3 linked regions of the Homo sapiens genome follow. The protein of the gene in region 3 interacts with the protein of the main gene of each other region in a pairwise test. Each region holds a gene or a part of one and is shown on either strand. Other genes may lie near its edges. The genes, in order: ANXA4, LBP and BDNF.

Region 1 (2,899 bases), on a different chromosome or scaffold from region 3:
CCGGCTAATTTTGTTTTTGTATTTTTAGTAGAAATGGGGTTTCACCATGTTAGCCAGGATGGTCTTGATCTCCTGATCTCATGATCTGCCAGCCTTGGCCTCCCAAAAAGTGCTGGGATTACAGGCGTGAGCAACCGTGCTAGGGCCCTATTTTGTTAAATATTATTCTACAACATTATTTAATGGTTACAGAATATCCCATTGTATGCAGGTAAAATAATTTATTTGATCACATCCTCCCTCTCCCTATTGTTGGATATTTACGTTGTTTCAATTTTTCACTATTATAAACACTGCTTCAATAAGCATATTGTAGTTACATTTTTGTATATTTTCTTAATGATTTATTCTGGATAAATTTTCATAAAATGGGAATTACTGGACTAAATGCATTTTCTTAAACCTTTTTTTTTTTTTTTTTCTGAGACGGAGTCTCGTTCTGTGGCCCAGGCTAGAGTGCAATGGTGCAATCCTGGCTCACTGCGACCTCCGCCTCCCAGGTTCAAGTGATTCTCCTGCCTCAGCTGCCTGCGTAGCTGGCACTACAGGTACACACCACCACGCCTGGCTAATTTTTATTTTTTTAGTAGAGACAGGGTTTCACCATGTTGGCCAGGCTGGTCTTGAAGTCCTGACCTCAAGTGATCCACTCACCTTGGCCTCCCAAAGTACTAGGATTACAGGTGTGAGCCACCGCACCCAGCCTGTTTTCTTAAACATTTTGATATGGGTTACAAAACAGTCTTCCGGAAAGGTTCTATAATTTCTGCATATAAATTTTTGTGGTCTAATAATTGATTAATTTTTTAATCTTTAATTTTATTTATTTATTTTTATTATATTTTTAGAGACAGGGTCTTGCTCTATCACCCAGGCTGGAGAACAGTGGTGTGGTCATAGCTCACTGCAGCTTCGAACTCCTGGGCTCAAGTGATCCTCCCACCTCAGCTTCCCAGAATGCTGGGATTACAGGTGTGAGCCACTGCACCTGGCCTAGATTAATTTTTATTAGTCATTCGTGGGGACTAGAAAAGATGGAATCTCTGTATATAGGGTTCAAAGTTTAATAAGTATCTGTTAAGCTCAATCTTAATATATCCTTGTTTATACTTTGCCTCATTGATGTGCCAAAGCATAGGATGTATTAAAGTCTCTCGCTAGCATACTAATTCCATTATATGTTTTCTTCTGGAGCCTCAAGTTTCTTATTTATACATTTGAATGCAATATAATTTGGTACTGAAAGTTTCATAACAGTTTAATCTTTGCTGTGAATTGTTGCCTTTGTCAGTATAACGTGATCCACTTTCTCCTATTTAATACTTTTTCTCCCTAAATTCTTCTTTTTATTAATAGCATAATCTCCGCTTTCTTTCTTGTATGTCCGCTTTCTTTCTTTCCCTGGTGTTTTTCTTTAAGCTTTTTACATGTCACTGTATTTTAGTTGTTTCTTATAAACAGCATGAAGTTGGATTTTATATTTTTACCTAACCTGAGAGTTTATTTATTTTTATAACTTTTATTTTTATCTTTTGTCATTTTTTTCTATTATTTACATATTTTATGCTTCTATTCTGCTTTTTTCATTTCTTTTGACAACTATTATTGAATGAGTAATGTATTCTTTATTTTTAATCTTTTCTAGTGGTGTGTGTGTGTATACACACATATATTTACATATTTATATATACAGACATATATACACTAGATTATAGTGTTTTCTTCCCAAGCCAATCAATATATTTGTACTCAATCATTTTAGTGTTGGTATAGTATTATATTGTATGGATTTTCCATAATTTGTTATTCCCTATTGATTAATAGTAATAACAATATATAATAAATTATATACTATAATACCATATTATTGATATAAATATAAATAACATAAAGCCATGTAAATAATATAAATAATGCTATGATGAAGTATTATACTTCATCTATTCTTTTCACATTTCATTAAACAATTTTATTCAAATTCAGAGACTTTTTCTTGTGGTAAAAAAATATATATATATAATTTGTCATTTTAACCATTTTCAAGTGGCACTAGTTACTTTTACAATGTTATGTAACCATCATCACTGTCTATTTCTAAAACCCTTTCATCACCCCAAACAGAAACTCTGTACCCACTAACCAATAACTCCCATTCTTTCCTCTCCCTCCAAATTGCTGGTAACCTCTAATCTACTTTCTGTCCCTATGAATCTACCTATTCTACATATTTCATAAAGCAGAATCATACAATATTTGTCCGTTTGTGTCTGATTTATTGCACGTAGTATATTTTCAAGGTTCATTCACGTATCAAAAATGTCATTCCTTTTTTTCATGACAGCGTACCATTGAATATCATTGCTTTTTATGTATGTATATACATTTTGTTTATCCAGTCATCTGTTGATGGATATTTAGGTTGTTTCCACCTTGTGCCTATTGTTAATAATGTTTATGTTGATGTACAACTAGCTGTTTGGGTTCCTGTTTTCATTTAAGTATATAACTGAGAGTGGAATTGCTGGCTCATATGGTCATTCTATGTTAAAATTTTTTCTTTTTCTTTTTTGGGATGGGTCTTTACTCAGGCTGGAGTCTTGAAGTGGTACAGTCATGGCTCACTGCAGCCTCGACCTCCCCAGCCTCAGGTGATCATCCCACCTCAGCCTCCTGAGTAGCTGGGACTACAGGCGTGCACCACCACACCCGGCTAATTTTTGTTGATTTTGTAGAGACAGGGTCTCACTATGTTGGCTAGGCTGGTCTCGAACTCCCGGGCTCAAGTGATCCACCTGTCTCGGCCTCCCAAAGTGCTGGGATTACAGGCATGAGCCACGATGCCTGGTCTATATTAAACTTTTTGAAGAAGTTTGGTGCTTAAAGTTTCGTAACAGACTGT
Region 2 (3,660 bases), on a different chromosome or scaffold from region 3:
TTCCAGGAGTACCAGCAGGAATGGGGAATACTGATCAGTCCAGCCAATCTGTTCAGGATGACCATTAAGAACTATCTACAGGCCGAATGTGGTGGCTCACGTCTGTAATCCCAGCACTTTGGGAGGCCAAGGCAGGTGGATCGCCTGAGGTCAGGAGTTCAAGACCAGCCTGGCCAACATGGTGAAACCCCGTCTCCACTAAATATATAACAATTAGCTGGGCGTGGTGGCACATGCCTGTGATCCCAGCTACTTGGGAGGCTGAGGCAGGAGAATCGCTTGAACCCAGGAGGCAGAGGTTCACCCAGGAGGGTGAGCCGAGATCGCAACACTGCACTCCAGCCTGGCCAACAGGGCGAGACTCCATCTCAAAAAAAAAAAAAAACAAAAAAACTATCTACATTAACTGTATGTTTATTTGTGTTTATTTCTAGTTAGTGTCTAGTTCTGCTATTAAACTCTAAATTCTGAGAGGCCAGGACCTCCCAAAGGAAAACTTTGTAATGGTGGAGTTTCAGGCACTGTCTCCAGCCAGTGCCCCCTCCTCAGGCTGTGTCAGTGACTCCCTAGCTCAGGTGTCCAGCCCTGGGACAGACTGAAAAGTCCAACTGGACCCTAGTGGAGTCCACATGGGGGCCCACATAGTTTTATTGTTTGTATTTCCTTGGTACCTGGCTCATGACAAGCACTTATAAATATTTGTAAATCAGTGATCACTGAGCACATGTGTGGAATAATGTGACTGCAGTGATCAGCACGGGGCCAGACCAGAGCTGGGGAACTCACTCAGTCATTCTCTTCCCATGTTTTTCAGATTTGCGAAATGATCCAGAAATCAGTGTCCTCCGATCTACAGCCTTATCTCCAAACTCTGCCAGGTAGGACACCCCATCCATCCCGGGACACTTTTATTTCTGTTAATTTCTATAAGAGCATATATATATCTTATAAAATAGTAAATGGGGCAAAAATATAGAAAGTAAAAATTAAGGGCCAGGCGCAGCGGCTCACACCTGTAATCTCAGCAGTCTGGGAGGCCGAGGCGGGTGGATCACCTGAGGTCAGGAGTTCGAGACCAGCCTGGCCAACATGGTGAAACCCTGTCTCTACTAAAAATACAGAATTAGCCGGGCGTGGTGGCGCATGCCTGTAATCCCAGCTACTCGGGAGGCTGAGGCAGGAGAATTGATTGAACCCAGAAGGTGGAGGTTGCAGTGAGCCAAGATCACGCCATTGCACCCTACCCTGGGCAACAAAGACCGAAACTCTGTCTCAACAGAAAAAAAAAAAAAAAGAAAGTAAAAATTAAAAGTTCATTTTTCTCCCCCACTTTTCTTCCAAGAAGTAACTTCTGTTTTGGGTGTATCTTTTCAGATATTTTCTTTGTATGTACAAATATAAATACATGTAAGCATATAAATAGACATTCATGTATGTATTATTTTGTTCATGAATCTATGTGTATATGTATTATTTTAAATATATATGTTCATATACATATAGTATAGGCATTGTTCCAGATTTCTTTTTTTTGAGATGGGGTCTCACTCTGTGTCCCAGGCTGGAGTGCAGTGGTGTGATCTCGGCTCACTGCAGCCTCAAACTCTTGAGCTCAAGTGATCCTCCTGCCTCAGCCACCTGAGTAGCTGGGACTACAGGTGCATGCCACCACACCCGGCTACTTTTTGTATTTTTTGTAGAGACAGGGTTTCTTTATGTTGCCCAGGCTGGTCTCGAACTCCTGGGCTCAAGTGATCTGCCCACCTCAGCCTCCCAAAGTACTGGGATGACAGGCACGAGCCACTGTGCCAGCTTGATTTCATTTTTAAAAACTTTTTATTGAAGTATATTTATAAAGAAAAGTGCTCAAATCATAAGTGTGCTGTTAAAGAGTTTTTACATGCATGTAACCAGCTCCCAACCGAGAAACAGAACACGGCTGGTTTTTCAGAGCCCCTGGTGTCCCCCTCGGTCACTGCCCAGCCCTCCAGGGTCACCACCATCCCAACTTCTACCAGCAAAGATTAGTTTTGCACTTTGCACATGAATGGAATCAGACAATATTTTGAGTCTCTTTTCAAAAGCCAGAAGGCTTTCTTTGTTCAACTTTAAAATATGAGGTCAGGGCTGGGCGCGGTGGCTCACGCCTTTATTTTTTGTTTTCTTTTTTTTTTTTTTTTTTTTTGTGAGACGGAGTCTCGCTCTGTTGCCCAGGCTGGAGTGCAGTGGCGCAATCTCGGCTCACTGCAAGCTTCGCCTCGCGATTTCACGCCATTCTCCTGTCTCAGCCTCGCGAGTAGCTGGGACTACAGGCGCCCGCCACCACGTCTGGCTAATTTTTTTTGTATTTTTAGTAGAGACGGGGTTTCACCATGTTAGCCAGGATGGTCTTGATCTCCTGACCTCGTGATCCGCCCGCTCGGCCTCCCAAAGTGCTGGGATTGCAGGCGTGAGAGCTCACGCCTGTAATCCCAACATTTAGGGAGGCCGAGGCGGGTGGATTACCTGAGGTCAGGAGTTCGAGACCAGCCCAGTCAACATGGTGAAACCCCGTCTCTACTAAAAATACAAAAATTAGCCAGGTGCCGTGGTGGATGCCTGTAATCCCAGCTACTCGGGAGGCTGAGGCAGGAGAATCACTTGAACCTGGGAGGCGGAGTTTGCGGTGAGTTGAGATTGTGCTACTGCACTCCAGCCTGGGCAACAGAACAAGACTCTGTCTCAACAAAGAAAAAAAATAATAAATAATAAATAAACAAAATAAAATATGAGGTCAGGTCAGGCTTGGTGGTGCACACCTATAATCCCAGCACTTTGGGAGGCCAAGGAGGGAGTATCACTTCAGTTCAGGAGTTCAAGGCCAGCCCGGGCAACATAGCGAAACCCCATCTCTACAATAAATACAAAAATTAGCCAGGCATAGTGGTGTGTGCCTGTAGTCCCAGCTACTTGGGAGGCCAAGGTGGGAGGATCGCTTGAGCCCAGGAGGTCAAGGCAGCGGTGGGCTGAAATTGTGCCACTGCACTCCAGCCTGGGCCACAGAGTGAGATCCTATCTCAAAAAGAAATGAAATAAAATAAAACATGAGGTCCATGCATATTGTTGCATGCACCTGTAGTGTAGCTGGTTTATTCTCCTTGCTGCATAGTATATCACCATGTAGATGTTTCCCCATTTATTTGTTCATTCTACTGTTGAAGGCCATCTGGGGGGTGTTCAGTTTTAGGCCATTATCCGTAGTGCTGCTATAAATGTCCTAGTACCTATGGTCGCATGTCTTTGGGTATATATCTGGGAGTGAAATTGCAAGCTCGTCATATCATGTGATATGCCCAGATTCAGCATTATAAGATCCTGCCAAACAGTTTTCCAAAGTGGTTGTAACAGACCTTATTTGTTAACAGCCGTGTAGTGTTCCATCACATGGATGTGTCTTCATTTATTTAATAAGTCCCCCACTGATGGACATTTAGGTGCTTTGCTGTCCCTTGCTATTGCCAACAGGGCTGCAAGGAGCCATCTACAAGTGGAGTCTCTGGATCCAGGGTGCACACATTAAGCTCGGAGGGGGAGACCCTGGCAAATTATCTGAGATGTTCTCTGATGCCTTAGCTCCTAAGCCCCTATGCGGTTATTTGCTGACATCACCTTTACCAGAGG
Region 3 (3,660 bases):
AAACTTTCTTTTTCAGAAAAAAAAAATTACTAAAATAAAGGTGCGTGTGTGTGTATGCACATATATCTAAAGGGAGAGAGGGAGAAGGAAACTTACTAAATAAAATTTTTGCCACATGGGATTTAGTCTAATCAGTCTTGGTTTTGGAGTTGCTATCATCAGTAGTTCCATTTTGTGATTCTTTCTTTCTGCCTTCATGTGCCTTTGAAAACTGAAACTATGCCCAAATTAAAACAAGTTTTTCTGTCTTTTCACATGTTCACTTATTTCTTGAATGTGTTTTTAAACACAGACAAACTTCTTTTACATCATGTAGAATCTGAAGGTCGAGAAATTTGCAGTCATTTTGCTGGAGAGAGATGCTTGGCGGAGTCCCAGGCCACATTCCTAGGCCAAACTCTCGAAGGTATTCCTCTTATGCAACATTGGGAAAATACATCCAGCACCGACATGTTGGCTGATAATGTGTCTGAAGGCACAGACGATATGCTTATCATATGAAACATAAAGCCAGCAGATATTGCAGACATTCTGTTGAATGATAGAATCTGGATCATTTACATTTACTTAAATGTAAAATACTATGATTAAGTACAAAAAAATCAATTTAGGAGAGAATAGAGAGTTGCGGGCACGGTTTTAGGGGATGACTTATCAGCAGATTGTAGAAAGGAAGCTTGAATGTTTTAAATTAACTGCAAGTTCAGTATAAGCCAGTGGTGTGACAAGAGGCTGTTATCATAGCTACTGAAATTTTGGGCTGCACTGCTAGAAATATAATACTGAAATGGAGAAGCTAATAATTCTTCACTTTTTAAATAGACTGTATCTAGAATATTATCATCAGTTCAAGGAAATGAAATAAGTTGTTTTAGGTACATCATCGATAAATTAGTGTACATTCAAATCACTGTGACCAGGATGCATAGGGAATTTGAAAGCATTGCATGTGAGCAATGGTTGAGGGGACTTGGAATGCATGACTTAGGGACAAGAAAACTTAGGCTGGAATGGCAAGTGGTTTTTGAATGTTGGGTTGAGAAGAATTCTAAAACTGTGAAGGATTAGTAAAAATAACATTCAGATTGCTAATGCCTACTGTGGCTGGGAGATTAGAGTGTCAACATGTGTGATGTATTTTTGACATCCTTATTTTGAGGATGGGCTTCAAAGATTTGACGAACTGTCATAAGTGTAATTTGTGTTGCTTCAGACAGCAGTTCTAGAACCAATGATGTAAATTTAGATACTCTACATGGTAGTTAGAAAACTTTCCATTAATTTAATTTAGCAAATATTGAATGCTCACTGCATACAGAGCACTTTATTAGAGGAATATATAATAAAGAAAAAAGAGGTCTGGTGTGGTGGCTCATGCCTGTAATCCCAGCACTCTGGGAGGCTGAGGTGGGAGGATCACTTGAGCCCAGGAGATCATTACGAGTCTGGACAACATAGCAAGACCCCATCTTTACAAAAGACAAAAAAAATTATCCAAGCCTGGTGACAGGCACTTGTAGTCCCAGCTACTTGGGAGGCTGAGGCAGTAGGATCGTTTGAGCCCAGGAGGTTGGGGCTGCAGTGAGCCGTGATTGTCCCACTGCTCTTCAGCCTGGGTGACAGAGTGAGACCCCGTTGGAGGGAAGGAAGGGAAGGAAGGAAGAAAGGTAGGAAGGCTGAAATGAAACCCTTTTAGAAATGACACTAAAATGGGAGGTTGGAGTAAGGTATTTTCTGAAGTGCCTTTGTACTTGTTTTTTTCTAATGCATTGGCCATAAGTCTGCTCCTTATTTATAGTCCATAAACAATCCTAATGAGAACAGTTATATATTTCTGCCTTTGAATCATCTACTTGAAGTGTTTAGCATCATGAATTGAGTATCAGAAATCCCTCCCATTTCTTTGCAAAGCGCTGTATTTTACTTTTCCTTATTTGTATACAGATTCTCAAAATTGGCTATTTTTCCTTTGGGTTAGACAGAACAGAATGTCTGGAAAAAAAAGTTCTTATCAAATTCAGGTGCCCAAATTGCTTAAGAAATTAACTTTTGAGGTTATATTTTTTTAGGGTTCAGTAGCTAAACTAAGAAAACTTCTCACCGTTCACCTTCACTTTTGGAAACCACAAAATCTTCAGATATTACAGTTTTCCAAAGAGTTTCTCTTTTTAAATATAAACTAAAAGGAATTGACTCCTCCCCCAACTCCCTCAGGCCTCAGCATGGATAGAGTTACTTTTTTTCTTTAATAATTTATTTATAACTTATTTTGCTCTTCTGTAGAACAGCTGGAGATTAAGCAACATGGCCATGACATAAAATGCAAGTTAGACCATAAGATGAGCAGCCCACTCCAAGTATGAATGAGTACTTATTCTTTGTGATCTCTCATACTGCTTTTAGGTATTAATAGTGTCAGTCAGCAAAGCAAACAGTTTAATATTTACATCTCCTTTAGGATATCATATAGTTTATAGTTTGTATGTGTTCTTGCGTGTATGTTTTCTTCTGTTTCAAATTCTTTTTTCTTAAAGTAAGAATGTTATATGTAGCAAATGGTTCTTTCATTAATTCATTTGTTAATTCACCGTGCATTAATTGAGTGCCCAGTGAGTGTCAGGCACTGGGCTACTTGGATTTCTTTTCCCTGTATTGATCCATATATCTTCAGGTGCTCCTTGATATGGCTCTCCATTGACTCTCTCATATAAGGCTTTCATTACCTATTCACATACTCCCTCCCAAAGAGGACTGGTCCAAAAGTAAAATCTTGAGCAAGTTCTCTGAGTTATTTCAGAACTTCTTGCCCCCAAACTGTATTTTTAATTATTGACTGGTAGCATTTTGGAATAACTTACCTCTCTTTTTTAAAGATTGAAGTTCTTTATCCTCTCTGATTTTCAGGTGTCAGTTTGTGTACAAATTGAGACAATAAAAATGTTTGTTAGACATTTTCTTAAAGCATTTTGCTATGTGAGAATCTTTCATGAAGAACTCTTTTTAACAATGACTCTATAGCAGAAGCCACAGTAGAGGGAGAACTACTGAATCAAAGATGGTGTTTGAGTCTATGATTTTATGATGGATTTTTTTTTTTTTTACATACAAGGATATGCATGGGTCTTTTAGTATTCAGGAATCTGTTCTTCACTTGACAGTATTTATAAATTGTGTGTTTCCCCCTAAAAAAACTTAAATTGTGAGAATGCTTCCATTTACTAGAAGTTGGTTAATGATTATGCCAAATAAGGAAAATAAGACAGAAAAATCAGTTTAGTGAATACTATTTTGCCTTTAAATTTAGTAATTTAGTAACAGTATCTCTTTGGGGTTTACTAGAAACCACTTTTTAATCCAATAGGTCTCTTTCATTGTGAAGTCAGGAGGTGATTTTGCTTAAATGTGTAGTATAGGAATCTATATGTGGTGTTCAAGGATCATGTAAATATGCTGATATAATCGGAGCACAGTTTGGCATCATTAACTCAGAAATATTTAAACTCTTGCTATACAACATGGAAGCAAACTTGTGCATAGTTTGTGTGTGTGTGTGTGTGTGAATCTCAAAAAAAGAAAAAAATCACAGGATCAGGAAGTCGGAATAGGTCCCACTTTTCTTCTAGTACCAAACCTACAGCCATGTTCCTAGCCTTCTCTTTT

Evidence for each region.
Region 1: the proteins of BDNF (region 3) and ANXA4 interact in binary tests that used the Homo sapiens proteins (3 or more experiments, as listed by UniProt).
Region 2: the proteins of BDNF (region 3) and LBP interact in binary tests that used the Homo sapiens proteins (3 or more experiments, as listed by UniProt).

Annotation. Positions count from the first base shown.
Region 1 is NC_000002.12:69,822,027-69,824,925, reverse strand, and holds part of ANXA4 (annexin A4), read right to left. Parts: intron 1-2,899. UniProt on the Homo sapiens protein: Calcium/phospholipid-binding protein which promotes membrane fusion and is involved in exocytosis.
Region 2 is NC_000020.11:38,359,890-38,363,549, forward strand, and holds part of LBP (lipopolysaccharide-binding protein precursor), read left to right. Parts: intron 1-814; coding exon 815-878; intron 879-3,660. UniProt on the Homo sapiens protein: Plays a role in the innate immune response. Binds to the lipid A moiety of bacterial lipopolysaccharides (LPS), a glycolipid present in the outer membrane of all Gram-negative bacteria.
Region 3 is NC_000011.10:27,690,339-27,693,998, reverse strand, and holds part of BDNF (neurotrophic factor BDNF precursor form isoform a preproprotein), read left to right. Parts: intron 1-2,858; exon of another isoform or gene 2,859-2,893; intron 2,894-3,660. UniProt on the Homo sapiens protein: Important signaling molecule that activates signaling cascades downstream of NTRK2. During development, promotes the survival and differentiation of selected neuronal populations of the peripheral and central nervous systems.